4 linked regions of the Homo sapiens genome follow. The protein of the gene in region 1 interacts with the protein of each later gene in a pairwise test. Each region holds a gene or a part of one and is shown in the gene's direction. Other genes may lie near its edges.

Region 1 (9,449 bases):
CTGGGAGGCGGAGGTTGCCGTGAGCTGAAATCGAGCCACTGCACTCCAGCCTGGGTGACAGAGCAAGACTCTGTCTCAAAAAAATAAATAAAATAAATAAAGGATCATTTCCACATCATAATGTTTATAGTACATGGAAGTTTATGGTAACAAAAATGTTCACTTAGGCAATACAGTTAAATAGAACATGGATTGGGAAGTCACACAAGATGGACTTAAATCCTGGCTCTTAAACTTGTTATCTGAATATAAGTCGGGCGTGGTGGCTCATGCCTATAATCCCAGCACTTCTGGGAGGCCAAGGCCGGCAGATCACTTAAGGTCAGGAGTTTGAGACCAGCCTGGCCAATATCATGAAACCCTGTCTCTATTAAAAATACAAAAATTAGGCTAGGTGCGGTGGCTCACGCCTGTAGTCCCAGCATTTTGAGAGGCCGAGGCAGGCAGAGCACGAGGTCAAGAAATCAAGACCATCCTGGCTAACACGGTGAAACCCCATCTCTACTAAAAATACAAAAATTAGCTGGGCGTGGTGCCACGCGCCTGTAGTCCCAGCTACTCGGGAGGCTGAGGCAGGAAAATCGCTTGAACCCGGGAGGTGGAGGTTGCAATGAGCTGAGATCGCACCACTGCACTCCAGCCTGGGCAACGGAGTGAGACTCGGTCTCAAAAAAAAAAAACCCCAAAAAAACAACAAGAAGAAAAAATTAGCTGGGCATGGTTGCGCACACCTGTAGTCCCAGCTACTTGGGGGGCTGAGGCAGGAGAATCGCTTAAACCAGGAGATGGAGGTTGAAGTGAGCCAAGGTTACACCACTGCACTCCAGCCTGGGTGACAGAGCGAGACCCTGTCTCAAAAAAAACAAAAACAAAGACAAAAAACAGAAAAAACGTATTATCTGAATAGCTTGTTAAGTTGTTTCACCTTTCTGGGCCCCAGTTTTCTATAAAATGGGAATTAGTGAAATAATACATATAAGAGGCCCCAAACACAGTAAGCTCTCAGCAAAGCATAGCTATTAGCAGAATTTAAGAAAGTAAACGCTCAGTTAGGACTGTATGTTTAATAATTTAAAAAGTTTCGTTATATCTTCTTGCTAGTAAAAGGACTCAGGTATTAACAAGCATAGTTTTCTTATTTCTAAACCATATGACTTATGGAATTTTAGGGTTATAAGGCCTGTTGAAGAGTCATCTAGGGAAGAGATTCCAGGGCCTACCCAGCCCTAATGAATCAAAATCTCTGGAGGATGAAGCCTAGGAATGTATCTTTTTCAAAAAATCTCATTTGATTCTGAAGACGACCCAAGTTTGGAAACCACTGAGGTGGTACATTTCTGGGCATGGGTGTGCTGAGCAAAACCATGGTTATGCCAAGAACTGTCCATTCTTGGAGGGTTATTGGGGTGGGGTACTAAAGGAGAGGTTACACGTGAGATTGTTTGTGATGCTTTGTAAATTGCAAAGCACTACAAATGGAGGGTACTGTTATGCAAAGGAGAATAATCATGAACTGTTGGTGCTGGAGATTTTAGAAAATTGATGCTCAGAGTGGTTAATGTAGCTTGTTTCAAAGTTAGGCAGCAAAGCAGGCAAAATACATATGGTGTTATATAAGTGCCAAATGGGTGTCAGAGACACAAAATGTCATGAGAACTTGGGATGGGGGCTACTGTGGGCTGGGAATGTTACAAAAGACTTCTTGGGGAGATGCAAATGAGGAACTGGTCTTGAAGGATGATTAAGATTCATATTAGTAATACAGAGGATGGGGGAACTGAGCGAAGACATAGAGAGAAGAACGCACCAGGCAGGTTTGCGAAGGTGTTAGACCTGGTGGTAGGCTGGAGCACAAAATTCATGTGGAGGAGTGGTAGGGGAGAGAACTTGTGGAGGGCCCTAAATTCTAAACTAGGGAGTGGAGACTATCTTGGTAAGCAGAAGGGATCCAAAGAAGGTTTTTGAATAGTACATAAGTAGGTGGAAAGTGAGAGCATAAAAGCAGGGCCCTTGAATCCAAAGGGTCCATTGAGACAGGCTAAAAGCGGGAGGCCACTGTGGTGTTCTAGGCATGAGGCCATAAGGTCTGAAAAGTGGGAATGAAGAAAGCCAGACGGTGTAAGTGCCACAGGAGCAATGGACAGTTCTTGGAATATTTATGGGGATCAAAGGAGAAAGAGGAGGCAACCACCGTGAGCCTGAGGAACTGGAATTATGATGACACCATTGACAGAAGTGGGAGGCCAGGCTGGAGGAAAAAAAGGTTGGTTTGAGACAGATGGTGGCACTGTTAACAGTGCTCTGTAGGGAAACTTTGGACACAACTCACCTTCATGTCCTCAAAGTTTGTTATCCCCATCTGAGGGAGGTTTGAGCAGTTGACGTGAATGAGTTTTCGGCCACTGATGAAGTTTGTGATAAAACACTCCTGTCAATACAACAAGGACATCACTTAAAAAATGTACTGCAAATAGAAGGAAGAAAGGGAGGGAAGGGGGAGGAAGGGAAGAAGTCGTGTTTGTTCTACCCTGAGAAAAAAATATTATTTTGTTTTTTCTTTTTTAGAGACAGGGTCTCACTCTGTCATCCAGGCGGGAGTGCAGTGCTGCAGTCATAGATCACTGCAGCCTCGAACTCCTGGACTCAAGCAGTCCTCCTGCCCCAGCCTCCTGAGTAGCTTAAATTTACTTTCTATCCCAATAACGGCACAATTTTTCCATGTAAGCTCTTTATTAAATTTTACACTGCTCTTTAACTGTTTTTTTGGGCATGGTACAACCAGTGCTTCTTCATGTCTCAATTACATTTGTAAGTATAGTAGGTACAAAAGGTTTCAGATCTTGTATTGTTTTGTGGTAGCCTTAAACCTAGTTGGCATCAGTGAAACAAGAGGTTTACACTGACTTTTTACTAAAACTAGTTTTGGTTAACTGGCTAACTTGAATTAATACACTTAAGTGCTCATGATACAGGTGACATATTTGGGGCAGACACTTTAAAAAGTAATAGCACAAGTTCAAAGCAAGGGAGCTGCCACTAAAATAACTTGACAAAGTACCAAAAAGCCTACCTTGAACAAAGTCTACTTAAAAATACAGTTTTCTATGAAAGGAGGTCTAAGGCCGGGCACGGTGGCTCACGCCTGTAATCCCAGCACTTTGGGAGGCTGAGGCTGGCGGATCACGAGGTCAGGAGATGGAGACCATCCTGGCTAACACAGTGAAACCCCGTCTCTACTAAAAATACAAAAAATTAGCCGCGCATGGTGGCGGGCGCCTGTAGTCCCAGTCCCAGCTACTCAGGAGGTTGAGGCAGGAGAATGGCGTGAACCTGGGGAAGGTGGAGCTTGCAGTGAGCCGAGATCGTGCCACTGCACTCCAACCTTGGCAAGAGCGAGATTGTGTCTCAAAAAAAAAAAAAGAAAGGAGGTCTATATACTCTTCTTGGTCTTTTATTCAAGGATTGCAGAGAAGTGTAATCACTGGAAGAGGAAAAACAAACCGATGTGACCCTCCCTTCCTCTCCCAAAATACAAATATACATCAGTGGCAAGGCCAAAATTAAAATCCAAGTTACCTCTACCACAGTCTAGGACTTTTTGATACTCCTTCCGGTAAAGAGGTAAGAGCTCAGGCCAAGTTAGAAGGAATAAGAAGTAGACGGATGACAGCATGTGATTTCAAAACATCTTATTTTTGTATACCTTGTATTGAGGGAAGCCTAGCTGGCTAATCCACTCTGCAACTTCCTCTGGATCCCAATTAAGATGCTCAAATTGTAACTCAGTCCCTTTTTCTGGCTGGGTTTCGTCATCTTCAGAGACCCGTTCCTTCAACTCTTGGGACAAATCTACAACTTCCTTTTCATGAACGAACTCACTTAATTCTGTCTGAGACTCTGAGGGATCTGAGTATGAGCATTCTTCACTGACATTAAGCAATTTTTGGAGTGGTTGCAAAAACTCATAATGTGTACCAATTGATTCTTCACTTTCTCTGAGAGATCCTAATGCGTAATATTCTTTTCTAAATTTGTCACTTAGTGACAACTTTCCTCTTTTAGGCTCACGGTGCTCTAGCTCATCGTTTCCTACAGAATACTTAGACTTTATTGGTTCTGGCCTGTCTTCCTTGGAAAATTCTACATGTGTCTCCCTTGGTTTGGTTTCATCTGGTAACTCTAGAATTTTCTCAGTTGGCTTTGTTTGTGTTTTCTCTTCAACTTGTGGGTTGATCTCCTGTGGTAGCACTGGACCAGTCTCCTCTGGTGGCTGTGGATTTTTTTTCTCATTTGACTTTCTTATCTCTTCTGGACTTTCTGGTTTCATCATTTCTGATTGTTCTAGAATTGTTTCCTCATTTGTTTTTCTTGATTCTTCCTCAGGAAACTCTAATTTGATCTCTTCTAGTGGCTCAGGAACGTTCTCATCAGTAGACTTTCTTGGCTTGTGGTCTGGAAAGTCTGGTTTAGTCCGCTCAGGTAGTTCTGTCCCTTTCTCCTCAGTTGCCTTTCTTTGCATCTCCTCTGGAACCTCTGGTTGAGTCTCTTCTGGAGGCTCTAGACCTGCCTCCTCACTAGACTTTCTTGGTTCCTTCTCCAGAAATTCCAGTCTAGCCTGCTCGGGTGGCTCTGTCCTTTTCTTCTCAGTTGACTCTCTTTGTGTCTCCTCTGGAGTCTCTGGTTTGGTCATCTTTGGTGGCTGAAGATCTGTCTCTTCAAGTGATTCTCCTAGTTTCTCACTTGGAAAATCTTGTTTGGTCTGCTCTGGAGGCTCTAGACCTGTCTCTTCATGTTGCACTCTAAGTGATTCCTCTGGAACCCCCGGTTCAGTCTCCTCCTCTAGTAATTCTAAATTTCTCTCTCTGACTGTGGCCCCCGAAACCTCAGACATGGTTTCCGTTGGTGGCACTGGATCTGGATCTGTTTCCATAGCTGACTCTAGGAACACATCCTCTGTAACATTTGGTTTAGCCTCCTCTGGTGGCTCTAGGTCTGACTCTTTATGCGTTTCATCCATAGGGGCCTCCAAATCTTTGAAAAACTCTCCCATCTCTCTGGATGTTTCCGACTTTACCTCTTGGTGTATCCCTGGTTCAGTTTCGCTTGGTACGTCTCTCTTGGACTCCTTGGCAATTCCTTCCTGGGACGTCCCGCCAGGTTTCAGCTGCACGTTCTTAGCACTGTCTGGCTCCCCCTCTTTGAAGTCCTCTTCCTCGGTCTCTGGCTGTGGCTCTTGGTAAATCTCTGCTGGTAGCTTCGAGTCTGCCTTTGCCATGGTGTCTGGTTCGGCATTTTCATACAATTTATGAAGTCCAGGCAGTTCAGGCCTCTCAGGCTCCAGCTCTCCATCTTCATCTGGGCCGGAATCATAATCCTCCGGGACTTCAGCCATTTGCAGCTTAGCAGACGCGCCGCGGCTTCCTAGCAACCCCAACTTCCGATAGCGTCTCTATGGATACCACGATTTCCGGCAGTGTCTTCCTGACTCTTCCCCAGGTTTTGTTTGTTCTTTCAAGCCCTGACTTTAAAAATCGTCTGTCACAAGCACGCAGTAACCCTCCCTGCGGCCTCATCGCCAGCCTCAGCGGGCCAGAGCTCCTGTGGCCGCCCCTGGGTCAGCTAGCTTTTCAAGCGGCCGCCGCGCCGCTTCTTCCGGCCTGCAGGCTGCGCTCGGCTGTGCTCGGCGCTCGCTCGGCCTTCGGCTGTTTCCGGAGCCACTCGCGGCTGGCAGCGGAGAGCTCCGTGCGCGGGCTGCAGATGTCTGACCTGCAGGCGGCTGAGGGGCCGGGCTCCTGGAGCCCCACAGCCCGCCCAGGGTCGGCTGGCGGCGTCGGGGACTGCCAGGGAGTGGAGGGGAGCCAGGCGGCCGCCTCAGGTACGCAAGGCCGGGGCGCTGGCGGGTGGGTGCCGCCCGGCCTCAGGGCCCCGCACCACGGCGCGAGCCTCCGCCGCGCTCTGTCCTGGGCTTCCCCGCGGAGCGGACCCACCTCGGCAGCCCCTTCGCGCGCGGGGCCCCTTCCCCGCCGCTGCCACCACCCGGGCCCTGGGCTCGAGGTTATTTTCTACTCACTCCTGTTTCGAAATGCCTTGATTCCTGCCCCGCTTCCTTTCTGAGATCTGCCCAAATGGTAGTGACAGGGTGGCTCTGCCCCTGGCGCCTCTTCAGCTTCAGTTTCAGCTTCAGCCGGGGTTCGGGTCCCACCTCCGTCTGCTAATCACATCTAGACTGCCGACCCGAACCCTACTGGCCTCGCCGCCCCCTGCTTCTGGCTCCCCACCCTATCCCCATCTCAGTCCCCTGCCCCAGCCTTACCACGCGCCTCTCGGCCCCCACCCGGGTTGGCAGCCTTGCCTTCCTCTGCCAGAAGCCCACTGCGCCCTAGCCTTCCTGCACATAGGCCCCCTGGCCTTGCTGCCATCCTCTCCATCGCTTAGAGTGGGAAAAATGAAAAGCAGAGTTGAAATAGGTAGTGTCTGGGGTCTTTTGCTTGAACACAGTAGCCAAAGCAAGAGCAGGAATTAAAAATTTGGCCTACCTCCCTCATTCTCAAGACCCTCATCCTCTTCTTGTCCAGGACGACGTCTCCATTTCTACTAACGCGAGTTCCTCCGTGTGTATTATTTCAGTGTCCAAAGACAAAAGAGTCCATCCATCACACTTTCTTCTTTCAGCCTCCTGAACACCACACACGATGCAACTGAAAGGATGCTCTTTTGAAATACGAAAGGGTAGAGGGGAGAGAACTTGTCTTATTTAAGTAGCAAATATAAATTAATTTTCTAGGTCTGAAATTAAAATAGACACCATAAAGTATAATGGTTGAGGCACTACTGTGGAGCCAGGGTGCCTGGATTGGAGTCTGAAACGTCAGTTTCCTCATCTGTAAAATGTGATTACTAAAAATATCTGCCTCATAGGATTATTGTGAGGATTACTTGAGCTGCTTTGTCTAAGGCATTTGGGGTATAGTCCATGGTACACACTATACTCGTCTCAACCATTGTGACAGTAAGGTCTCTTTTTGTTCAGTTGAACTTCCTGTGCCGCCAGAGGTGTTCTTGGATGTATGGCTTCCAACATGGTGCCTTTTTCTGTCTTCTACTCTGATCCCAAGTATCTTCCCTCTCATAATGCTGCCTTATTCAAACACACACACAACTCACCCAGCTCTTTCCCATGATTTTATATTCTTTTACTTTAAAACACCTGACAAATTTTGCCTTTTTTTCTTACGAACTCTGCTTTGTATTAAATTAAAAATCGTTGGCATATATTTAACATAGCAGTAGAAATTCTAAGCATAATGTCTAAAAGACTAAGCAAGTAAACACAGAAAGGTAAGTCTTATAACACTTGTCCCTTGCATGCGCCAGTATTTACAAATTAAGCATGTTTTTACTTCCCCTTTAGGTTCTCATGTGTTTATGGCAAACGTACCCACGCGTTTTAGATAGATGAGTGTGTTTTTTTTTCCCCCTGACATCTAATTCATTCCTGCATTCACTTCCTCCCAGGACATTGGTAGAGATGCTTACTTTCCTTCCTCTTACCCTCAGAATGCAGGGTGATAATTTTTTTTTTTAATGTCATGTAGGGGTTTATTATAGTAGCCCAGAGCAAGCTCTTCCTCTTGAGGTAGGATTTGTTGCTAATAAAATAATAGTAATGATAACCTACAGATATTGAATGCTTATTCTGTGCCAGAGGTGGAAAAAAATTTATATTTTCTGATTTAGTCATGTCAACAATCATTTTCTTCCCATTTTACAGAGGAACAAACTACAGCTGAGAAAGGTTAACTTACCTGTTCAAGTTAGCGCAAGTTTTTACTGTCTGGATGAAATTGTCATCTTGTTATGATGAAGTCTATAATTGTTTGTTTTTATTGGCCATGAATCAAGTATTGGTACTCGCAGACAGGTTATGGTCTCTGTCCTCAAGGTGTTTTCAGTTTGATGAGATGAGAGATCCATTTCAGGGAGAAACAATTAACAATTCAAAACATTATATAATTGGGCGTCTTTTATTACAATTCTTTATCTACTAAGAAACCTGCTTGGAGTTAGGAACGGAATCTCTCTTGCTTGTTTATTTATCTAGAGCCCTTGATGTTGTGTTTTAGAGGTTTCGCAAATATTTGCTGAGTTTGATGGTGAGAGAAAGTCTGAATGCAGAGATCTGGATGAGCATCTAATGAATGTGAAGAATTAGGGTTGAGATAACCAAGAATGTTCCTTGGGTTAGAGCAATGGTTTTCAACCAGGTACGATTTTGTATCCCCAGGGCATGGCAATGTTTGGAAACATTTTTGCTCGTCACAACTGGTGGCAGCTATTGCTGACATCTAGTGAGGATAGGCTAGGGATGTTTGCTAAACATCCTGCAAGGCACAGGGCAATCCCCATAACAAGGAGGTATCTGGCTCCAGATGTCAGTGGTGCTGCTTTTGGGAACGCTGTGTTAGAGTTAAGCTGGGCTTCCAAAGCAGTGTGGAAATACTATATTTGGCCTGGACCAGAGGCTTGGGCGTAAACCCCAAAAAACTGCTTTAAACTTGGAATTCGTTTGATTGGATCCTTCTGCCATCTTCCTCTAGAAAATGATACAATGAGTAAGCAATAGAGCTCTAAGAAAGAATGAAATTTAATGAGATTTCTCTCACCCTTTCAGAGAGAAAACAGCAGTAAGAAATGGAATTGGATATTCAGGTGTTCTGTTAGTCCATTTGGAATACCTGAGACTGAGTAATTTATAAGAAAAGAGTTTTAATTGGCTCATGGTATTGCAGGGTGTACAGGAAGTGTGGTGTTGGTATCTGTTTCTGGTGAGGGCCTCAAGAAGCTTAGAATCATACTGAAAGGGGGAGCAGGTATGTCACATGGCGAGAGTTGGGAGTGAGAGAGAGAGAGACGGGAGGAGGTCCCAGACTCTTTTAAACAACCATATCTCAGGTGAACTAACTGAGTGAGAACTCACTTATCATCAAGAGGATGATGCCAAATCATTCATGAGGGATTCATCTCCACGATCCAGTCACCTCCCACCAGACCTCACCTCTAACATTGGAAATCACATTTCAGCGTGAGATTTGGAGGGAACAAACATCCAAGCCATATCAGGTATTGTTGAGTTAAGGGTTTTGGTTTTTTGGTGTATCTTATTCCTTCAAAGCAGGAATGTGTCATTATCCAGAATAACCATAACTTGTTTTTTAAAAGTGTTCTCTGCAGAGAATACCTATTGAGTGTCTTCATGTTTGTTAGCTGAGGTTTTGGTGAAAAGGAAGGAAAGGATTTATGTTCTTATGAACTAAGCTCTCCAGTGGTCATGGTGTTCTTATTGTTTTATGCATTGTAATTGTTTTTAATAGTCTTTTATTTGAGGCACCTGGGTTCTTCAGTTCCCCAGAGGAGAGATAAATCATTCTTTAATTATGAAACTATCTGAG
Region 2 (5,648 bases), on another chromosome or scaffold:
TGTGGAAAGAGAGGCACCAAGGGCTTGAAACTTAAGGAGGTCATGAACTTGCAGAGGACATGTGAGTGGGAGAGGGATATTTCTTCCCTGTCTGGATGATCCCAACACTCATGGGCATACAGGGTCATGGTAGCCTGTGTCTCTCACCCCATGCCTTGGAACTGGTGAGTTCTGGACTACCCTTTCAGACCTTCTTCTCTTCTACACAGAGAAGCTCCTTACCATGGCATGCCTTAGTGACCATTTCCAAAGTAGAATGAGTTGCTGCCAATTTGTGTAATTTCAGGGGTACTGAGCAGACTCACAAAGTCCCAACCGAGGAGGAAAACACTTCCTCTACCATCTTGACCAAATTCAGGTCTTTTCAGCATTAGCAATTTATATAGATGGTTCTGAAAGTGTCTTGAGTCTTCTAGTGGTTCCATAAAATTGCACATGGCCTTGCTGTGCACACAGGTGAAGCTGTCACTGCTAAGGCATCAGTTAGGCTGGTGACACCTGCGAGTGAGACCTGGAAGGTTGGGGGTGCAGGTGGTAGGTCAGGAGGCAGTAAGGTGGCTGGAGCGTCCATGTGGAGCCAGAATGAATAGCCAGATCTCCCACTCCAGTCAGCTGGGGCAGTGGCCGCACCCAGTAGCCTTCAGCCAGGTGAAAGGGCATGAGGCATTGGAAGGGAGCAGATGCCAGGCAAAGTGATCTCCTGTCTTTCTGAGGTTTTGTTTTTGTTTGAATTCAAAGTACTCAGAGATAGCCAGACTGCAATGTCTGAGGGCACCCTTACCTTTGACACCACCTGCAAATCTATGGGGATTCCTAAAATCATCCTTAGATTTTATAATTCACTAGAAGGACTCACGTAACTCACTGAAAACTGCTATTGCACGATTGTGGTTTATCACAGGGAAAGAACACAGATTAAAATCAGCCTAAGGAAGAGACACACAGGGCAGAGTCTGGGAGGATTTCAGGTGTGAATCTTCATTGTCCTCAGGAGGCTGTGTTCTCCTGTGTGAATGTGGGACAAAACACATGCGGTGTTGCCAACCAGGGAAGCTCACCCAGTTAAGGAAAAATTCCTGTGAATCACATTAAACCAGAAATGAAGCCTTTATTCAGGATTGTTGTTACAGGGGAGGGAGACTGAGCCCAGCTCCAAATATAGTAAAGACAGAGGGGGAGTCACAGCCAACACCAGGGTGGGGGCGGGAGATGGAACAGGACTGACAGGAGACGCCAGAGTGGGGGGTTCCTGCTAAACTGGCCTAACAGGATTCTCGCCAAAGGCAGGTCAGACCCTCAACCACCAGTGGTGGGGGTGAGGAGCATGATCAGATAACAAACGGTGCTCAGACAGCAAGCGGGGAGGACCCTCCCTAAACTGATTTGGGGAGATTCTTGCTGAGCCAAGGTGGTGCAAGTCCAGAAAGCAGTGGGTGAGTGTGGAAGGCCAAGGTCGGCGCCTAGTGGAGAAGAAGCTCTGAAGAGCCCAGCTGGAGTTGGTCAAGGAGAAAGTCCTTCTTTCTCAACCCATGCCTTAGTGTCCAGAGTATCTGCTGGGGCTGGATCACAAGCTGCCCTCATGGCTAGAGTCTCCAGCCCTTCCCTGAGATCTCACACCTTTAGTCCCCAAGTCCTCTGGAAGTCAGGAAAGACACCAAATAGCCCCAAACCCTATCATCCATCACATCGCTATACTGTCCCGTGGCCAAATCACCAGGCAAAGAAAGATGTTCCTACCAGGCAGGACATTCCAGGGGCCTGGAGATCACTTCCCAGGAGCTGAGGACAAAGGGAAGGCCTCTCTTTGGGTAAAGTTCATGCTTCACTTTCCTGCCATCCTGGTAATAAGGTCTCTTTGTCTCACTCTCACTGCTCTTTGTTCATCTGCAGAGTTTTCCCTCTCCAAACACTTTGGCAGTCACGGTGTTGACCTGCCCTTGAGTGAGGAGGCATCTTTATCAAACACCTACCATGAAAGAGCATCTGAGGTGCCTTTAAGATATTTATTTCCATATGGAATAAGTACTGAGGAATATCTATGATGAACAAAATGTGTTTGAGTTTGAAAGATAATTAATTCCATTTGTAAAATTTGTTTCTATTTGATTGATAGTGAAAGCTCTGCAATTTACACAGGATAGAGATCGCATGGAGCTCATTTCACAGATAGGGAAACTGCATTTCTTAATCCTTTAACCTTTCCTTGTGCAGGGATGAGGCAGATGAGCTCCGTAAAGCTCTGAACAAGCTTGCAAGTCACATGGTCATGAAGGACAAAAACCGCCACGATAAAGACCAGCAGCACAGGCAGTGGTTTTTGAAAGAGTTTCCTCGGTTGAAAAGGGAGCTTGAGGATCACATAAGGAAGCTCCGTGCCCTTGCAGAGGAGGTTGAGCAGGTCCACAGAGGCACCACCATTGCCAATGTGGTGTCCAACTCTGTTGGCACTACCTCTGGCATCCTGACCCTCCTCGGCCTGGGTCTGGCACCCTTCACAGAAGGAATCAGTTTTGTGCTCTTGGACACTGGCATGGGTCTGGGAGCAGCAGCTGCTGTGGCTGGGATTACCTGCAGTGTGGTAGAACTAGTAAACAAATTGCGGGCACGAGCCCAAGCCCGCAACTTGGACCAAAGCGGCACCAATGTAGCAAAGGTGATGAAGGAGTTTGTGGGTGGGAACACACCCAATGTTCTTACCTTAGTTGACAATTGGTACCAAGTCACACAAGGGATTGGGAGGAACATCCGTGCCATCAGACGAGCCAGAGCCAACCCTCAGTTAGGAGCGTATGCCCCACCCCCGCATGTCATTGGGCGAATCTCAGCTGAAGGCGGTGAACAGGTTGAGAGGGTTGTTGAAGGCCCCGCCCAGGCAATGAGCAGAGGAACCATGATCGTGGGTGCAGCCACTGGAGGCATCTTGCTTCTGCTGGATGTGGTCAGCCTTGCATATGAGTCAAAGCACTTGCTTGAGGGGGCAAAGTCAGAGTCAGCTGAGGAGCTGAAGAAGCGGGCTCAGGAGCTGGAGGGGAAGCTCAACTTTCTCACCAAGATCCATGAGATGCTGCAGCCAGGCCAAGACCAATGACCCCAGAGCAGTGCAGCCACCAGGGCAGAAATGCCGGGCACAGGCCAGGACAAAATGCAGACTTTTTTTTTTTTTTTTTTTTTTTTTTGAGATGGAGTCTCGCTCTATCGCCCAGGATGGAGTGCAGTGGCTCAATCTCGGCTCACTGCAAACTCCGCCTCCCGGGTTCACACCATTCTCCGGCCTCAGTCTCCCGAGTAGCTGGGACTACAGGCACCTGCCACCACGCCCGGCTAATTTTTTTGTATTTTCACTGGAGACGGGGTTTCACTGTGTTAGCCACGATGGTCTCCATCTCCTGACCTCGTGATCTGCCCACCTCGGCCTCCCAAAGTGCTGGGATTACAGGCGTGAGCCACCGCGCCTGGCCAAAATGCAGACATTTTATTAGGGGGATAAGGAGGGCAAGGTAAAGCTTATGGAACTGAGTGTTAGTGACTTTGGCATTTGTGTAGCTGAGCACAGCAAGGGAGGGGTTAATGCAGATGGCAAGTGCACCAAGGAGAAGGCAGGAACACTGGAGCCTGCAATAAGGGAGGAGAGAGGACTGGAGAGTGTGGGGAATGGGAAGAAGTAGTTTACTTTGGACTAAAGAATATATTGGGCGAAGAATAGAGGGGGAGCTTGCAGGAACCAGCAATGAGAAGGCCAGGAAAAGAAAGAGCTGAAAATGGAGAAAACCAGAGTTAGAACTGTTGGATACAGGAGAAGAAACAGCAGCTCCACTACCGACCCCCCCCCAGGTTTGATGTCCTTCCAAGAATAAAGTCTTTCCCTGGTGATGGTCTCTCGCTCTGTCTTTCCAGCATCCACTCTCCCTTGTCCTTCTGGGGGTGTATCACAGTCAGCCAGTGGCTTCTTCATGATGGTGGTTGGGGTGGTTGTCATGTGACGGGTCCCCTCCAGGTTACTAAAGGGTGCATGTCCCCTGCTTGAACCCTGAGAGGCAGGTGGTAGGCCATGGCCACAATCCCCAGCTGAGGAGCAGGTGTCCCTGAGAACCCAAACTTCCCAGAGAGTATCTGAGAACCAACCAATGAAAACAGTCCCATCGCTCTTAGCCGGTAAGTAAACAGTCAGAAGATTAGCATGAAAGCAGTTTAGCATTGGGAGGAAGCACAGATCTCTAGAGCTGTCCTGTCGCTGCCCAGGATTGACCTGTGTGTAAGTCCCAATAAACTCACCTACTCACCAAGCTGGACTTGTTCGAGTCATTCTTTGGTCTCTCAGCTCCTTCTAAGCTTTGGGGGCCATCAGTCTCAAGTTTTTCTCGTAATGGTGGTGATGGTGGTTGTGATGGCAGCAGAGTGGTGGGGGCCTTGGCAAGTGGTCGGTGCTCTTCCAGACCAGGGGACACCGATGGACCGATGAAGTTCCAGGGGAACTTGAAGTGCTGTGTTGGAAAGAGGTTAATTTGGGAAGAAAGGAAAAATGAAAGGAGATGCCAGGAACAGGTCAAGGAAGCTTGAGGTGTGTCCAGGAGTTCAACCCTGCTTGTGGTCATGAGACTTCACCCCTCTGAGCCTCAGTTTCCTCATCAGCTGTAGAAGGGGGCTGGAAAAGGTGATATCTCAGGTCCACCTTGCTCTCCCCATCTTGTGTTCTGGAGACTTGAGTCAATCAGCACTGACTGATGGCTGTGACTTTGTGGTGCCGATGGAGGCTCCCCTGGGCTCTGGGTGCCTGACTTAACCTTCCTCATGATCCTTCTTCCAGGGTCTCAGGGAGCGAAGTTTCAAGACCCCTTCTGCTCGCTCACTGGACTCTCACTTTCCCAGCTGGTCATTTCCCTGAGACCTCAAAACCCCAAGCCCATTGGGGCACTCGGGGAAAGCTTGTACATGTCTGGCTCTGGCTGAGCACAGGTGTGGTTTCCATCTGTGAGTCAGAGCCCGGGATTGACACGGGACACTCGAGGCTAACTAGTGTCAGAGGGGCCTGTGTGCAGATTGGGAGAGGATCAGCGAAAAATAGAGGGACAAAGAGAGACATCCAGACAGCAAACACTCCCATCCAGTCTGTCCTCACGTTTTGCCCAGACTCCTGCAAGAACTTCCAGAATGGTCTTCTCTGTGCCCCTGCCCCTGTCCCTCCCATGTCCTGGACCATGCTCCACACTGGGCCAGGTTGGGCTTTAACAATATAGTTTCTTTTTTTTTTTCAGATACTCTCACTCTGTTGCAAGGCTGGCAAACCGTGGCACAATCATGGCTCACCACATCTTGGACCTCCCGGCCTCAAACTATCCTTCCACCTTGACTCCCTGAGCAATTGGGACCATCCGTGTGTACCCCAATGCCTCGTTAATTTTTGTATTTTTTTTTTTTTTTGTAGAGACAGGGTTTCCCTATCTTGCCCAGGCTGGTCTCAAACTCCTGAGCTCAGGTGATCTGTTCACCCTGGCCTTCCAATGGACTGCAATTGCAGGCATGAGCCACCATGCCCACCTAAGAACATAGGTTTGATTGAGCACCTGCTTCCAACCCTCTAATGGCTTCCCATTACTCTTAGCACAAAGATGTAGGCCATGATGCTGCCTAAAGTAGCCTGTTGTGGCCTG
Region 3 (8,829 bases), on another chromosome or scaffold:
TTAAAGACCTGTCTCTCCCACTAGCCTGGGCATCTGGAGGGCAAGGGATGTGTCCTGTATTTCCAGAACCTAGCAGAGTCCCTAAATGAATCTTGTGAATCTTTCTTTCAGTGTCCACTATAGGATTTGGCTTTGTGCTGGACATGGGATTCTTTGAGACAATAAAGCTTCTCCTTTGGGTTGTACTCATAGATTGTGTAGGCGTTGGTCTTCTGATAGCAACTTTAATGTGGTAAGTACCATAACTTTGGTTTTTCAGATACTGCTGTAGCATCTCCATTTGTTTGCTTCAGAGGTACAATAGCAGCAGATGGAAATTGAAACCCAGGTAGAGTTACTAAATGATCAATTTTGACTGCCAAGATTATTACAATTTTCCCTCCTGTGTTGCCACCTATATCAGAAAATACTATAAAGGCTGGTTTATAATATTGTCAAATGTAGCAAATAATTGAAATAATTATGTTTTGAACCCAAAATATCTGAGATCGGTCTCAATTTAGAAAGTTTAGTTTGCCAAAGTTAAGGACATGCCTGTGACACAGCCTTAGGAGGTCCTGATGACATGTGCCCAAGGTGGTCGGGGCACAGCTTGCTCTTATACATTTTAGGGAGACTTGAGACATCAGTCAATATGTGTAAAATGTACATTGTTTTAATCCAGAAAGTGGGGAAAGGCAGGTTACAGTTAGATAAGAGACAAATGGTTGCATTCTTTTGAGTCTTTGATCTGCCTTTCACTGAATACACAATTTACTTGTGAGAGGCAGGTACAGGAATAGTCATTTATGCCTTAATCTGGCTCAGTGAGTCTGCATTTTTACATAAACAATGGGGCAGAGGAAGCAATCAGATAAACACTTGTCTCAGGTGAGTAGAAGGAGGACTTTCTGTCCCACACCTGTAAAGATAAGCTATCTTAGGAATAAAATAGGAGGCAAGTTTGCCTGACACAGTTACCAGCTTGACTTTTCCCTTTGGCTTAGTGATTTTGGGGTCCCGAGATTTATTTTCTGCATACTAACAAAATGCCTGGTTTTGCAAAAATATTACAGATTTAGCCAGTTCTGCTTAAGTTGTCTGGATGATAGCATGGTTTTCTGCATTTGTCAATAGAGACCACTTCTTGATATTCATTGTGTTTAAATCCATTTAGATCTAAAGGGTTATTTTGTGGAGTCTTACTTTGAATCTTTGCATTAAATGAAGTATACTTGAAAAAGAAGGATTTTTTTTTTAAACTTCTCATGCCTTCCTACTGAGAATAAAATTCTCTCTCTTTCTCTCATACACACACACCCTCCGCCCCCCCCGCCCCCCCACCGCCACACACACACACGGGCTTTATCAGAAGGGTTCTCAGTCTGACTTTGGTTGATTTAGCAACAGCAGTGTACTGAGGATAAATCTGGTGTTTGGTAAAGTCCTCCTGTGTGGTTGGCATGCTGGATGAAGGGCAGGGGATGTGGCTAGCGATCTCAGTAGAGGACCAGTGGTTGGGTAGACATGGTGGTCATTGTGGAGAACATTTTAGTTGCAGAGAGACCTGGGTTCAAATGCCAACTTAGTTATCTGTGAAACTCTTAGTCCCAGTCTCTTCTTTTACAAAATCTAGTTAATTACCTATTCTGTCCAATTTTTGAGATAATTATGTTATGAAAATTACCTGACACAGTTAAGTGTTCAATATTTGGTAGTTACTAATATTTTAAGCAAAACTCTGCAACTATAACTTCTGATACCAGCCTTTTTTTTTTTTTCTTTGAGACGAAGTCCCACTCTGTCACCCAGGCTGGAGTGCAATGGTGTGATCTCAGCTCACTGCAACCTCCGCCTCCCGGGTTCAAGCGAATCTCCTGCCTCAGCCTTCTGAGTAGCTGGGATTACAGGCACACACCACCACACTTGGCTAATTTTCATACTTTTAGTAGAGACAGGGTTTTGCCATTTGGCCAGGCTGGTCTCAAACTCCTGACCTCAGGTGATCCTCCCGCCTCAGCCTCCCAAAGTGCTGGGATTACAGGCGTGAGCCACCGCGCCCAGCCAATACCACCCTTTTACAGGCATAGTTCAGATATGCTAGTTCCATTCCAGATACTGCAGTAAAGCAAATATCACAATAAACTGAGTCACACAGATGTGTTGGTTCCCAGTGCATATTAAAATCATATTTACACTGTACTGTAGTCTTTTAAGTGTACAATAGCACTATGGCTCTAAAAAACAATGTACAGACTAATTTAAAATGCTTTATTGCTTAAAAATGCTGACACAGAGACATGAAGTGGGCATATGCTGCTGGAAAAATGGCACAGGCAGACTTGCTGGACACAGTTGCCACAAACCTTCAATACGTAAAAATTTAAAAACTACAGTTTCTGTGAAGCGCAGTACAGTGCAGTGTGGTAAAATGACATATGCCTGTATTTTCCTTTGTAACTTCTGACTAGTACAGCAGAGCTTTTGTATGTGCTAGTTAGCCAATAAATGCTGTCCACTGTTAATATAAAATTCTAAAATCTGGCCTAGAATTAATACTAATGTAAGTCACGTATTCATTACCAAGAAATTCATGAAAAACAAATGGTGTGTTTTAAAATTTCAATAAATAAGACTTTCAAAGGAATAGTTTCATTCATAACAAGCATTCTGCCCTGAATGCAGTAATTCTGGAGGCCACTGTCTTAGTCTGTTCTCAATGCTGCTATAAAGAAATATCTGAGACTGGGTAATTTATAAAGGAAAAAGGTTTAATTGACTCACAGTTCTGCATTGCTAGGTAGGCCTCAGGAAACTTATAATCATGGCAGAAGGCAAAGGAGAAGCAGGCACCTTCCTCACAGGGTGGCGGGATGGAGTGAGTACAAGTGGGGGAAATGCCAAATGCTTATAAAACCATCAGATCTTGTGAGACTCACTGACTATCACGAGAACAGCATGGGGGAAATTACGTCCATCTGGCCCCACCCTTGACACGTGGGGATTCTGGGGATTGCTGTTCAAGATGAGATTTTGGGGACACAGCCAAACAATATCAGGCACAGAAGGGGACCAAATCAGCCTGGAGTTTAGCACATTTCATGTGAGTCTGTATCATAGTTTGAATTAAATAGAAAGGGATTCAGTGTATTTTTGAGAACCTATGTTGTGTGAGGAACTAGAAAGAGAAATGACTACATGTAATGATGACCATCACAGAGGAGCTACAGAAGCCAGCATAAGGTGGTGGTTTGTGGAGATGGGGAATAGTTGACTCCTGGTGCTGGGAATTGCAAGTGCAATGGCATAGAGGTGTGAACAGCACACTAGGTCTGGGAGCATAGGGTGACACCGAGTCACTGGGGAAGAGATGTGACTAGAGAAATTGGCCTTCATGCCATTCAGGAAAAAAATTGGACTTTATCTCATAGACTGCATGTGTGGGTTGGGGGCAAAAGGAGGTGGGGAGCTTTGAGGCTTTAAAGTAAGGAAATAATGTCAAACTCACACTATCTTTTCCATGGCAGTGGAGGAGGCAAAAGTTGGAGTAGTGAGTGGGCAAGGCTGGATACACTTGCAGAGGTCTGCGTAGGAGTAGAGGAGGCCCAGATAGTATGGTGGTGATAGGAATAGAGAGGAGAGATGGATTCGAGAGCTTCCTGAGATAACAAGGTATGAGGGGGGATCAGGAAGAGGGAGTGGGTGGGAGGCTCCTTTGGGATGACCTGTAAGATTTTGGCTTAGATGACTGAGGAAGCAGCAGATGCAGATGAAGCAGCCCTTGCTGGCCTGTTGAGTTCAGGGAGCTTCCTGAAGAGTGAAAAGAAGGTCAGTAGACACTGAGGTTGATGACTCTAGACCTAGAGGCAAGAGTCTGGGCCATGATGAGCCTCTGACTGGCGTTAATATGGAGCTGGGAGGTGAAAACCACAGTGCCTTGGAGTGCTCTCGGAAGGCACATCTGTCTTTCAGAGGAAAGACTCTCACTGAGGCCAGAAGCTTGAAAAGCGCCCATTTGGGATAAGCGGGAGAATAGGGGCAGCAGAGAACGTCTACAGAAAGGGCGCTCTTGGGGAGCGAGCTACATACTGATTCCATAAAATTTGAATGGCACACATTCTTGGCTAAAAAGGAAACTGTCTTGGTAAGCTCTAGTTTGTTCAGTATTGTTTTGGCATTTTCAGATAACGAAATGCAGGGACTGTTAACATTAGTATTGTACCTCTGTTTATTTTCCATTTTTATCCCCAGTGACGGAATAGCGTATTCTTAATTGTACCCTTGAGATGAAATGAAATAATACATTAAAAAATACATTGAATTTCCAATATATGTTTATAATACAAGTTTTGTTCTTTGAAGATCTTACTTTTCTGTTACTTGGATATTTTACTTTTTATTCATCATTGAACTGAAAAACTAGTAGGCCATGTTGTAGAACAGTGACATACACTTGAATAATTGTTCTTATGGCTGGATGCGTCACTCTTCCTAACTGCTTCTTACTATTTCATCCTCCTTTTAATAGGGGGTTGACCCAGGTCTTGGGCCTTGGGCCTGTTCATTATCCACATTCATTTTTTTGGTGACATCATTCAGGCCCGTGGCTTTAAATATTAATATCATCTACACACTGATGAGTTTATATTTCCAGTTTGGACTTGTCTTCTAAACTCTAGACATTGTATACAACTTCTTACTCCATACTAGTTGGCATCTTCAACATAACAGGTCCAAATTCAAACTTCCGCACACTCCTTCCCACCTCAAAACCACTCTTCCCACAGCCAGCCCCACCTCAATTAAAGGCAGCTCCATCTTCCATTTGTTCAAGGCAGAAATCTCTCAGTCATCCTTGAGTATTTTTTTCTCATACTCCAATCCAATAATGTCAGGAGCTCTACCTTCAGAGTATCGTGTGTGCCACATCTTAGCACCTCCACTGCCACCAGCCCCTCTGCTCATCTCTTCCTTGCAGTAGCCTTCTAACTGGTCTCTGCTGCCAGTCTTGTCTCTGGAGTCTGTTCTCAGATCCGCCACCAGGGAGGCTCTGTCAAGGCATTTAAGTCAAATACTTTTCTCAGAACTCCACAGTGGCTTCTCACGTCACCAGGAATAAAAGCCAAAGATTGTAAAACGGCCACAGGCTTCGTAAGACATGGAGCCTGTGTGACTTGATGTTGGGCCCAACCCTGTTTCTTTTCTGGCTTCATTTCTTGCTCCTTTTCTTTCAGACACTGGTCTTTTCACCATTCCTCAGGCCTGCCAGGCACCATCACTATCCTTGGGTCTTTACCCAAATGTTACTTTATGACCCTCATATGTACAATTGCATCTCAAGTTTGTATTCTCCACATTTCTCTGCTGCTTTCTCTCTTTCCATAATACCATCTGACATAGGTGTATCATTGTCAGCCTTCCTTCCTAGATGGAAGGCAGGGATTTTTGTCTGTTTTGTTTACTGGTATATCTCCAGAATTTAGAATGTCTGCCGCATAGAAAGTCGTCAGTAAACATTTACAGAATTCATTTTATTATGAAAGAAATTTTAATTTTGCTCTTAGGTTCATCTCTAACAAGTATTTAGTGAAACGACAGAGCAGAGACTATGATGTGGAATGGGGCTATGCTTTTGATGTGCATCTCAATGCTTTTTATCCACTCCTGGTCATTTTGCATTTTATCCAGCTTTTTTTCATCAACCGTAAGTAGCAGTTAATTAGAGTATTATCCAAGTCTTCATTGCATGCATTGGTAAAGGGACTCATGGTCTGCGTCTCTTCTGGCAGATGTTATCCTGACAGACACATTTATTGGATATTTAGTTGGAAATACCTTATGGTTGGTTGCAGTTGGCTATTATATCTATGTAACTTTCCTGGGATACAGTGGTAAGTAATTTTTTTAAATGTTTTTGGTTGAGAACATAGCAAGAGGGGGAAAGTTGTAACAGTAGTACAAACAGCTGCTTTTATGGAACACTTACAGGCACTATCCTAAGTATTTTATGTGCATTATCTCATTTAATCTTCATGACAATTACACAGGTTTGTTTCTGTTTTCAAATGAGGAAACTGAGGCAGAGAGATTAAGCAACTTACCCATGGTCATGCAGCTAGAAAATGGCCTAGCTGGTATATAACAGATTTTATACTTTCAAGGAAACATGTTAAACCATACTGGTTATCTCCAGATGACTTGCAGGAATCCAAGACCATTCACTCCTCTTCTCCCATGCTTTCAGGTTGTGGGTTACCAGCAGGAGGGTAGAGCGAAGAAAGGTGGGGCCCAGCATCTTGTTACATAGGTCTATGAACTGAAGTTCTCTAAAGCCTTTTGAATCATAACTTTTTGCCCCATTCTTAGTTTTCATGATTACCGTATGGTTCTGTAGACAATCACAGAAGATCGGGCCCAACATTTATTGTCCTCAGGACATGTTTGCAGATTTACTGTTAAATCCTGTTGTCAGTTCATTTTTCTTAATATGAATGAGGAACATATATTATTTTTCATTTATGTTAAGAAATGATCCCATTAAATAAAGCCAAATAAAATCTAGAGACTGCGCTGTACGTTTCTTACCCCTTCCTTTCCTGTTACTGTAGATGATTAGGGCCTAACTGTAAATACAGATGGCTCTGACTATGCCTGGCTCCGGAGTTATTCCCACCCCGGTTCTCTCCCCCCTTGGCTGGTTTGTCAGGGAACACTTAACCCCTTCATTGTAATGCCTTGTTTGGGGAGTGCTTTCTCTAGTCCAGGGGAGATGTTTGTGTCATTTCTAATGAATTTTGAAAGTGTTTTGTGATGAGAACACTGCAGCACTGTGGTTTCTCTAAGTGGTTATTTGAACACTCCTGGTAACGACCTATACCACTTAGAATAGTTGGAGTACAGCTCAGTTTGTTTAAGAACTTCCTATATGAGAAATACTTAGGTCGGGATGCATGGGGTAGGGTCCCGCTAACTAAGCAGTGAGCAAGAAACATCAATATTTGGAGCCAGACTTTTATATTTAAGAGTTTCAGTTCTTTTCTGAAGCCTGGGCTACTAGTTGAGCTCACACCCTCTTAAAGTGGGGGTATAATGCTTTACACTGGAAAATCTCAAATAGCTAAAAGATGTTTTCCTATAACGCCATCCATCTCTGTACTTTAAGTTGGACTCCTAGAGGTTTCTGAGGCAGTCACAAGTTTAAATTCACCACTGTTTTCATGAATATTTGTGACATTTCTCCCTCATTGTTAACCTCTCTTGGTCCAGTGTATGATGTCCCACTCAGCCTCTGTGCTGAAATAATTCCTCTCCTAGGTTTCTTCCCAGCCCTAGACAAGGAGGAAACAGCACAGAGGGGTTGGGAAGAGTAGTCTAGTTCTGGGCATAAATAGCATCATCTTACTGATTCAAAATATGCATTCCCTTCCACCCCACATGTTGAAGTAAGCTGTCTTTCAAAATGTTCATTTATTAGTCATTTATTTTTTTTTTTTTTTAAATCAGTTTGGATTCCTTTCTTTTCCAGCATTGCCATTTTTGAAAAATACAGTAATTCTTCTGTATCCATTTGCACCTCTGATTCTGCTCTACGGGCTTTCCCTGGCACTGGGATGGAACTTCACCCATACTCTCTGTTCTTTCTATAAGTACAGAGTGAAATAAAAAGTGAGAAGAAGATTCAATCGTAACTGTGTCAACAGTATTGTGAAGTGATCATTTCTTGTAAAACTTGTAAATAAACTATCATCTTTGTAGATATCTTAAAGGTGTAAAGTTTGCAAATTTGAAGAAATATATATTAACACTGTGGTCAGGTACATTCCTTAAAACTAATTAAATGTACATTTCTATAATAAATATTTTTTAAACTAAAGCATGTGTGTTCACTCTAATATTTGCAAATGTAAGAGCTACATGTAAAATGCTAATGGCATGGGGAAAACATAAACATAAAACAATATGAATTATTTTTGAAAGAGTATCATCTAGTTGGAGAACAAGGGAATAATCATACAGCCCCATCGCTCTCCTATTGACAAAGATGCATAATCTCCATTTCTAATTAGCTGTATTTTAAATACTTACTTACATAAGCCACAAGATCCCTTCTAACCTTCGGAATCCTCTATAAACCTGTAGTGTCAGTCAAACGGGAGTCACTGTACTTCAGGCCCTAAGCATCATTAGCAGCATTTTCTACATTAAAAACTTACTTATAGCCCCTAAATATTTTAGATCAAAGAGGCCCAGGTAGCTACTCTTATTTTAGGAACTGTATAGTACATATAATAAAGTGAACATCAGCATAATATTGGTCATCACTGTCTTAACAGTAGGGCTTTTTTTTCCCCTTTCTTTAGAGACTTTACAAAACCCAATAGAGGATCCACTCCTTTTTCTAACTGAAAATGGATAACTAGTATTGTCTCAGTGTTAACAAAGTTAATAATAAAATACTACTCATTAAGTTTCACCTATTTTTATTAGAAGGAATCTTGAATTCAACATGGCTTTTTAAACTTCTTTATTTCAAATACACATGAACGGTCGTGGCACAGAGAAACAGTGATGAAGGCACAATCAACAGGACCAGTTACTAGGTTTTCAATTATAGCAGCAAATCTGAAAATAAATAATCTTCCTTTAAAAATCCAACAAGTACCTAAAATATTACTACGGATAGGAATCATTCAGCCAATGAAGACATTTTAAGGAAAATATATACAATACATTTAAGAAAAAAAAAAATCTGGTACAACCTGGCAAGGAGATTCCTCAGGCAGCTTCTCTAAGGGATGCTTCCAGAAACATCCCCTAATGCAGACAACCTTTCCAAAGTGTTCTGAATGG
Region 4 (8,829 bases), on another chromosome or scaffold:
GAATATACAAATCGAGCTTAGGACAATGGTCAAACCTGCCAAACCAGCAAAGAACAAGGTAAGTAGCTAGCAAGGTAGGAGGAAAGGGAAGAAAGAGGAGTATTTCAGCCAGGGAAGCCTCGTTGTATTGATTGTTGCCAAGAGGTTGAGGAAGATGATGACAGAAAAATGTCCGTGTGATTTGGCAATATGAAATTCATTGAATCTACATAGAATCTGTTCTTGAAAGAAATGAGGAGAGATCAGAAAAGTTTGAACATTCTAGCAAAGGAGAGTGATCCACATAGCCCCTAGTAGACATGCACTGTCAATATTGGACATAGTTCCATTAATCCTTTTTTTTTTTTTTGAGACAGGGTCTTGCTCTTGTCACCCAGGCTGGAGTGCAGTGGCATGATCTCAGCTCACTGCATCCTCCACCTCCCAGGTTCAAGCAATTCTTGTGCCTCTGCCACCTGGGTAGCTGGGATTACAGGTCCCATGACCACACCCAGCTAATTTTTGTATTTTTTTTTTTATAGGGGTGGGGTTTCTCCATGTTAGCCAGGCTGGTCTCAAACTCCTGGCCTCATGTGATCCGCCTGCCTCAGCCTTCCAAAGTGCTGGGATTACAGGTGTAAGCCACCTCACCCCGTCCCTTTTTAATCCTTTCTGTGTAGTTGTGTTCATAACCATACTCCATTTTACTTGCTTTTTTCCATCAATATTATAAGCAATTTTTCATGTTATTAAAACAATCCTTATAATCACCATTAAAAGATTTTTTCTGATTATAAGAATATACAATTGCTATAGAAAATTTGGAAATCTGGAGAATTATTAATATGAGGTAGAAACAATTCTTTGGCCCAGAAGCAATACTGTTAATATTTTATTCACTGATTCAACAACTATTTGAGGGTCTGCTTTTGGGTAGAGAAAGAATGTTTTGGGGGTGTTTGTTTTAGAGGTGGGGTCTTGCTCTGTTGCCGAGGATGGAGTACAGGAGCTATTCACAGGTGCAATCATAGCACACTACAGCCTTGAACTCCTGGGCTCAAGCATCCCCCCTGCCTCAGCCTCCCATGTAGCTGGGACTCCACAGAGGAATGTTTTTTAAAGACCACAGTGTGAAAAACTGATTGTAGTTTATTGGTCACACCTTCTTTAGAAGAAAGCTTATTATTATAAATAACATATACCTACACATTTCTCATATAATGTATACAACATTTTCTGACTTGCTTCTCCCTCCCCTCACTTAATATGTCACAGACATTTTTCCTGTCTCACTAAATACTGTGTCAGTTCGAGTGTTTTAGTTTCTGTGGGGCTTTTGTATTTAGAAAGGATTGTTGGGCAATTTGGATTTAAAATTAATATACTATTTATTATAGTTGCAAATTTAAAAACCTAATTGTTTTTCATTCTTGAGGTTCAATTTATAAATAGGATAAAAAGATTAGTAAATTGAATTACTTTTTGCATAAAAATAAGGAACAATCATTTTCTCTTGTTCTTTGATGAATGTTCGGTAAACTCTAATGGAAAGGATTACATTGTCCTAAACAGTAATACCCATTTGCAAATTTAGTTAATACATCTCTTTAAGCAGTTTAGTCACATTTATAAATTGAACATATTTGATATTTGAGTTTTTTCAATTCTTCAAATCCCCAGTGCATAGGCAGATTAACCTATCAAGCAAAATGTTCCTAAGCACTTAAATGACTCTTGTTTACTCAAGCCCAAAACTTCAGTGTCATCCCCCAGTCTAATTCTCTAATGTCCAGTCTGTTAGCAAGTTCATCCTGCTTTCGTTTCTCCATATATCCCACATCTCATCACTGCCTCTATGACTGTTACCCTAGTCCAAGGCACAATTATCTCTTGCCTGGACATCTACAGTCACCTCCCAACTGGTTTGATAACATTCTTGCAGTGCACTAGCGTTCCCAACATGCTAAGTGATGAGAGTGCATATTTTTAAATGTAAATCAGACACATCAAGTCTCTGCTCAGAATGACCCAGTGGCTTCCCATCACAGTGAGAGTAAAAACCCCAACTCCTTCCATGCTCTGCGAGGCGTTATGTGATCACAGTCTGCATGCACTGTCCTAGTCACAGCCCTGTTGACTCTGACTTGGCCACATTGGCCTTCTTGCTTTTCCTTGAACAGTGAACATACTCCCAACTCAGTCTCTGCACTAGCTGTTTCCCCAGATTTGGCATGGCTCACACACCTTCACTTTATTCAAGTGCCCATCTGGTGGCTCTTCAGGTGGTCTAGTCTATAAGAGCCCTGTTCCCTCTCATACTCCATACTCTTCCCCTGCTCTGGTTTTTTCCTTGATGGCACTTAACTACCTCTGCTTAACATTTTTTTTATATTATTTAATTTATTGTATGTTTCCCCAAATACCATGTTGGAACAGTGCCTACCACATAGTATTTCTGCAATAGATTTTTGTTGAATGAATGGATGTACATATACATTTTACTTGAAACAAACATTATTTTTTGGGTATGATAATCAGTTTTCTTCACTTTAGCTGATCCAAAAATGGCATCTTCTGCTACTCCTTTATAGCTTTCTAATGAATTTGAAACTAGATTTACCTCTGAATTACATTGCAATTTCAACCTGTCCTTTTTAGTACTTTGACCCACTGAATCATTTGTTACAGTTTTGTGGGGTTTTTGGGGCAGGGGCGGAGGGGTGTTTTTTTTTTTTGACACAAGGTCTTGCTCTGTCACCTAGGCCAAGTGTAGTGCCGTGATCATAACTCACTGCAACCTCAAAATCCTGGGCTCAAGCTATCCTTCTGCCTCAGCTTCCTGAGTAGCTGGGAGTATAGGTGCATGCCACCACACCCAGCTAATGTTTTTGTTTTTGAGAGAGAAGGTGTCAAACTCCTGGCCTCAAGTGATCCTCCAACCTTGGCCTCCCAAAGCACTGGGATTATATGTGACAGCCACTGTGCCTAGCCTGTTACAGTCTTCTAAAATATTATTTCTCTAAATAAATTGCTAGCTGTCAATGGCAGATAATATTTTCTTCAAAGTAAGTCCTTCCTAATGTTTATTTTCTGCTCCAGAAAAATCAGAATATTAGGAGACTGTGTTCTAAGAAACTACAAACTGCATTAATTGGGTAGTTTCTCTTATGTTACAGAATGTTACTTTTCTTTATACCCTTTCTCTGTTAAAATGTGTTCATTATAAGCAGAAGACAAGATTGTTTTGATTTTTAAAACTCAGCTTTTATTTAACACATTTCACTGAGTATTCATTGCTTCATTTAATATTGATTCTAACATTTTACAAAGATGCCTTGTTGGAAAATTCCATATGTGGAATGTGGAAATAAACTATGTATTACTCTTGGTGAATGAGGAACTGCTCAGCATGTTCATTATAGAAAATTCAAAAAATAACAAAAGAAATAAGAATAGCCTGTTATCCCACCACTTGTAGAAACCACTGCTATTAATATTTTGATACACATTTGACCTTCAGTATCTGTGGGTTCTGCATCCATGGATTAAACCAACATTAGATGGAAATTATATCAGAAAAAAGTTCACAAAGTTCCAAAAAGCAAAACTTGGATTTGCTGTGTGCCGAGTATTATGTTGAATCCACATGAATGAAGTCATATGCAGACATCATATTAGGCATTATAAGTAACCTGGAGATGATTTAAAGTATACAGGAGGTTGTGCATAAATTATATGCAAATGCTACATTTGCATATCCACAAATGATCATTTGTGGATTTTGGCATCCACAGGGTGTCCTGGAATCAATCCCCCATAGACACTAGGGACAACTGTTTATTCTTATCTCCTCGATTTCTATGCATATATATTCTTTTGTTTTTGTTATTAATGTAATTGAGCTTTTTGAAGAAGTAGCCTGGGTTTGCAAGTTATTTTAACTTTTGGCAGCCTGGTTTTCTCACTTACTATATTTGGATAATAATATTTATCACGAGTTGTTATAAGGATCAAATAGGTTAATATTTGTAAAGTGTATAGATTAGTGCCCATGACTTATAAATGCTATCTATAAGTATTAAATAAATTAGGCAAATAACCCGCTTTTAAAACATATATGGTGAACATTTTCTCAAGTCATAAAATATTCTCTGTCTCTCTCTCTCTTCTCTTTTTTTAGAAATGGGATCCCCCGCTGTCCAGGCACGATCATGGCTTTCTGCAGCCTTGAACTCCTGGGCTCATGTGATCCCTGCCTCAGCCTCCCAAGTAGCTAGGACTACAGGTGCCTGCCACCATGCCTGGCTAATTTTTGCATTTTTTGTAGACATGGGGTCTCATGTTGCCCAGGCTGGTCTCGAACTCATGGCCTCAAGCGATCCTCCCACCTTGGCCTCCAGAAGTGCTAGGATTACAGGTGTGAGGCACCATACCTGGCCAAAATATTATCTATAGCATAAATGTTAATAATGCCTTAGTCTTCCATCATATGGATATGCCATGAGCTATTCCCTTTATTTTTGGTTTTGTTCTTTCCATTCTTTCACTGTTATAAATAAAGCTCTGATAAATATCCTTGTACATGAGTATTCATATCCTCATTTCCTTAAATGGAAATGGATCCACCAGGAGTATACATGTTTTATAAGTTTTTGATACCTGCTGCCAAATTGCCCTCTAGAAGGGCTATACCAATTTATATTCTCAGGATAAATATATTGAATAGTATATGAGTACTGATTTCTCTTTAAGTTCACTGATTCTGGGTTTTATTTTTTAAAATCTTTGCTAATTTAGCAAGTAAAAAATTATACCTTAATGTGCATTGCCTTGATTAAACTTCATTGTTTGCCACTATAATTTTTTCTTTGTTGACATCTCTTGATGTTTTTTGTCCAGTTTTCTATTGGATATTTGACTTTTTCTGATTTGTAATGATAGATGAACCTTTTTTCTGTATATTACAAATATTTTCCCCTGTTTCTTTTAGTCTTTAATCCTGTTTATAGTGTTTTAGGACATACACTTTTCAATTTTAAAAACAATTTTAATTTTTTGGGTACATAGTAGGTGTATATATTATGGGGTGAGATGTTTTGACACAGGCATGCAATATGTGATCATCACATCATGGAAAATGGGGTACCCATCCCTTCAAGCATTTGTCCTTTGTGTTACAAACAATCCAATTATACTCTTTTAGTTGTTTTAAAATGTACAATTAAGTTATTATAGACTATAGTCACTGTGTTGTGCTGTCAAATACTAGGTCTTATTCATTCTTTCTGACTATTTTTTTTTATACCCATTAACCATCCCCACCTCCCCCTAATCCCCAAACCAACCCCACTACCCTTCCCAGCCTCTGGTAATCATTCTTCTACTCTCTATCTCCATGAGTGCAATTGTTTTGAGTTTTAAGTATCACAAATAAATGAGAACATGCAATGTTTGTCTTTCTGTACCTGGCTTATTTCACTTAACGTAATGATCTCCAGTTCCATCCATGTTGTTACTAATGACAGGATGTTGTTCTTTTTTATGGCTGAATAGTACCCCATTGTATTTAAGTATCACATTTTCTTTACTCATTCATCTGTTGACAGACACTTAGGTTGCTTCCAAATTTTGGCTGTTGTGAACAATGCTGCAACAAACATCGGAGTGCAAAAGTCTCTTCGATATACTGATTTCCTTTCATTTAGGTTATACCCAGCAGCATCATTGCTGAATCATATGGTAGCTCAATTTTTAGTTTTTTGAGGAACTTCCTAACTGTTCTCTATAATGGTTGTACTAACTTACATTCCCACCAACGTGTTTGAGGGTTCCCTTTTCTCCGTATCCTCCCAGCATTTATTATTGCCTGTCTTTTGTATAAAAGCCATTTTAACTGGGATGAGATAATATCTCATTGTAGGTTTTTTTTACTGCTCCTTGTGGACCAGAGCGGTAGCCTTAATCTCAGCACTTTGGGAGGCCGAGGCGGGCAAATCACTGGAGGCCAGGAGTTCGAGACCAGCCTGGACAACATGGTGAAACCCCGTCTCTACTAAAAATAAAAAAATTAGCCCGGCATGATGGCATGCGCCTGTAATCCCAGCTACTCGGGAGGCTGAGGCAGGAGAATCACTTGAGCCCAGGAGGCAGAGGTTGCAGTGAGCCAAGATATCACCACTGCACTCCAGCCTGCGCCACAGAGCAAGACTCTGTCTCAAAAAAAAAAAAAAAAAAAAAGACCCAAGAGTCTGTTTTGCAAGTAAAACTCTCTGGTGTGGCAATCTGAAAGATATGATTTTTTTTTACCCCTTATTTAATAATAAAATAACAAGGGTTATATTTGCCTAGCAGACTATAAACATTTCCTTATTTCTTATAATTCTTTATAAACTGCCATAATGGGTATAGTTTATTATTTATTAATTCCCTGATTCTTGCATGTAGGCTTGCTAGGATAAATATTTTCAGATTTTGTGTATTGTGATAAAAATTATCTTTTCCTTTTTTGGAGCATTTTCCATTTCTCCATGAGCTCTTCACTTCCTCACTTAAGTAACTGAATAGGCATAAGCTTGGGACTATGGTTCCTTAAATATCATTTTAACCTTCCGGAGTCTTGACAGCAATTTTTTGAATAAAATTTTTCTTTAGTTAAGCTGACTCAGTGAGGTAAAAGTTAAATATTTCAGCTGTGCCGTAAGCTCACATAAAGCCCCTTGATAAGTGACAGCCTTGACTTTAACAGCTAATCCCTCCTCTGAGTGGTTAGTGGAGCCTGGCTCACCACTATCGTCTCATAAGGGCTTCAGCGCTCGTGTGCTCATATGAATGGTTACAGTTTATTGGTCCAGGTCACTTTCACTAATCCCCAGCTTCCTTTAGAGGATGTAAGACAGACACTGACCTAGCTTGTACAGCCTTCTGCATTCTTCATTGTATAAGCTGATCATGATACAATTATCTTTAGACATAAACATAGCAACTGTAATCATATTTTATCTCTATTCAGACTGGTTTTTAGTCAGTTACCTAGCTATATCTATCAATTACTGCTAGCAAATATTCTTAGGTTTACATAGCAACAAAAATTTTTTCTCATTAGCTTTAGTTTTAGTTATTCCACTGAAACATCCTCCTCTTGTCCTTTTCTCTGCAGCTAGATAATCACTTTTCCCCCCACCCCCGGGCTGCAGTTCTGTGGCTGTCTTCTCATTTTCTTTTCCCCCAATAAGGTCATCTCTGTCTTGTGAGCTCCAGGTCTTAGAGGCTGGGACAAATTCTGTCTTCCCTTCTTTCCCATGTAAACCCCTCAGCTTAGCTTCCTGCACTCTGTCCCACAAACTTTGATTCCTCCTTTCCCTGTCATTAGCAGCAGCATCGGTGGTCTCTTCCCTTTCAACTCCAGGTATCCAGCTTTTAGGTCTGATTTCTGGAACATATCCTCTTAAATTGTTAAGCACTTATGACTGAAATATTTGTGAATTGGGGGTCGATTTAACTTTTTTCTCAAGACAGGGTCTCACTATGTTGCCCAGGCTGGTCCTGAGCTTCTGGCCTCAAGTGATCCTCCCACCTCGTCCTCCCAAAGTGCTGGGATTATAGACATGAGCCACTGTGCCTGGCCCTGATTTAATTTTTTAATATAACAAGTTGCATATTCTCTAGTGTTTACACTCACATGCTTGAATTTACAATGCATCAGGCTCTTCTCAGCAGGAGCCTCATGGGTTTTAAACTAAACCTTCATGAGCCAGAGTAACCTGAGCATACTGAAAATCCAGAATCGGCCTCTAGCACCTAATAGTAATACTGTATTTTTATCAGTTCTAAAATGCATTTCCACGTCTAAAATTAGGATACATATTATAATCAGTAGTGGCCATAATTTATTTGGTAGCATCTTTTCTTTCTTAGAGGTAGATAAAATCATGGCATGTCTGAAAATGGATAGTGTCAGATTTGATAAGATACAGTAATGGGCCGGGCATGGTGGCTCATGCCTATAATCCCAGCACTTTGGGAGGCTGAAGCAGGAAGATCCCTTGAGCTCAGAAGTTTGAGATCAGCCTGGGCAGCATAGTGAGATCCTATCTCTACAAAAATCTTCTGAAAGTCAGCCAGGCATGGTGGTGGCATGCTCTTGTAGTGTTAGCTATGTAGGAGGCTGAGGTAGGAGTATCACATGAGCCCAGGAGTTCGAGGCTGCAATGAGCCATGATAGTGCTACTTCATTCCAGCCTGGGTGACAGAGTGAGACCCTGTCTCCAAAAGAAAGAAAGAAAGAAAACGAAGAAAAAAAAATACAGTAATGAGAACGGTAGCTAACATTTGTTGCGTATCTGCCACACACAAGAATTTTTCTATGTGCTTTATGTCTATTATCTCCTTTTATGTTTATACCATCCCTGAGGAGTAGGGATGTTCAGATGGAAAAAATCTAAGGCATAGAAGAATTCAGCTAGTAACTGATGGAGTTGAGGCTTGAACCCAAGCAACAAAATAGTTCCAGGGCTACGTTTTTAACCGTCCTTCCACTATGCTGTACTGCCTCTTCATAACTGTTTGGGTTTTTTCCCCTCTTTAAGGCATCGTTGGCTTCACAGTATGACTGATGATCCTCCAACAACAAAACCACTTACTGCTCGTAAATTCATTTGGACGAACCATAAATTCAACGTGACTGGCACCCCAGAACAATATGTACCTTATTCTACCACTAGAAAGAAGATTCAGGAGTGGATCCCACCTTCAACACCTTACAAGTAAAGACAATGAAGAACAGTTGAAACATGCAAAATATGGAGCTTTTCATGTAATTACTCTTTTACTGTTTACCATTCACTATAATTC

The links.
Region 2: the proteins of TMED8 (region 1) and APOL2 interact in binary tests that used the Homo sapiens proteins (3 or more experiments, as listed by UniProt).
Region 3: the proteins of TMED8 (region 1) and UNC50 interact in binary tests that used the Homo sapiens proteins (3 or more experiments, as listed by UniProt).
Region 4: the proteins of TMED8 (region 1) and NDUFA12 interact in binary tests that used the Homo sapiens proteins (3 or more experiments, as listed by UniProt).

Annotation. Positions count from the first base shown.
Region 1 is NC_000014.9:77,373,362-77,382,810, reverse strand, and holds the start of TMED8 (protein TMED8), read left to right. Parts: upstream 1-5,716; 5' UTR 5,717-5,757; coding exon 5,758-5,875; intron 5,876-8,901; exon of another isoform or gene 8,902-9,120; intron 9,121-9,449. Other genes in the region: SAMD15 (sterile alpha motif domain-containing protein 15), read right to left, coding at 2,330-2,428, 3,704-5,392.
Region 2 is NC_000022.11:36,224,844-36,230,491, reverse strand, and holds the end of APOL2 (apolipoprotein L2), read left to right. Parts: intron 1-2,211; coding exon 2,212-3,088; 3' UTR 3,089-4,283; downstream 4,284-5,648.
Region 3 is NC_000002.12:98,610,664-98,619,492, forward strand, and holds the end of UNC50 (protein unc-50 homolog), read left to right. Parts: intron 1-111; coding exon 112-232; intron 233-5,543; coding exon 5,544-5,683; intron 5,684-5,768; coding exon 5,769-5,870; intron 5,871-7,482; coding exon of another isoform or gene 7,483-7,504; coding exon 7,505-7,641; 3' UTR 7,642-7,852; downstream 7,853-8,829. UniProt on the Homo sapiens protein: Involved in the cell surface expression of neuronal nicotinic receptors. Binds RNA.
Region 4 is NC_000012.12:94,971,356-94,980,184, reverse strand, and holds part of NDUFA12 (NADH dehydrogenase [ubiquinone] 1 alpha subcomplex subunit 12), read left to right. Parts: intron 1-8,564; coding exon 8,565-8,745; 3' UTR 8,746-8,829. UniProt on the Homo sapiens protein: Accessory subunit of the mitochondrial membrane respiratory chain NADH dehydrogenase (Complex I), that is believed not to be involved in catalysis. Complex I functions in the transfer of electrons from NADH to the respiratory chain.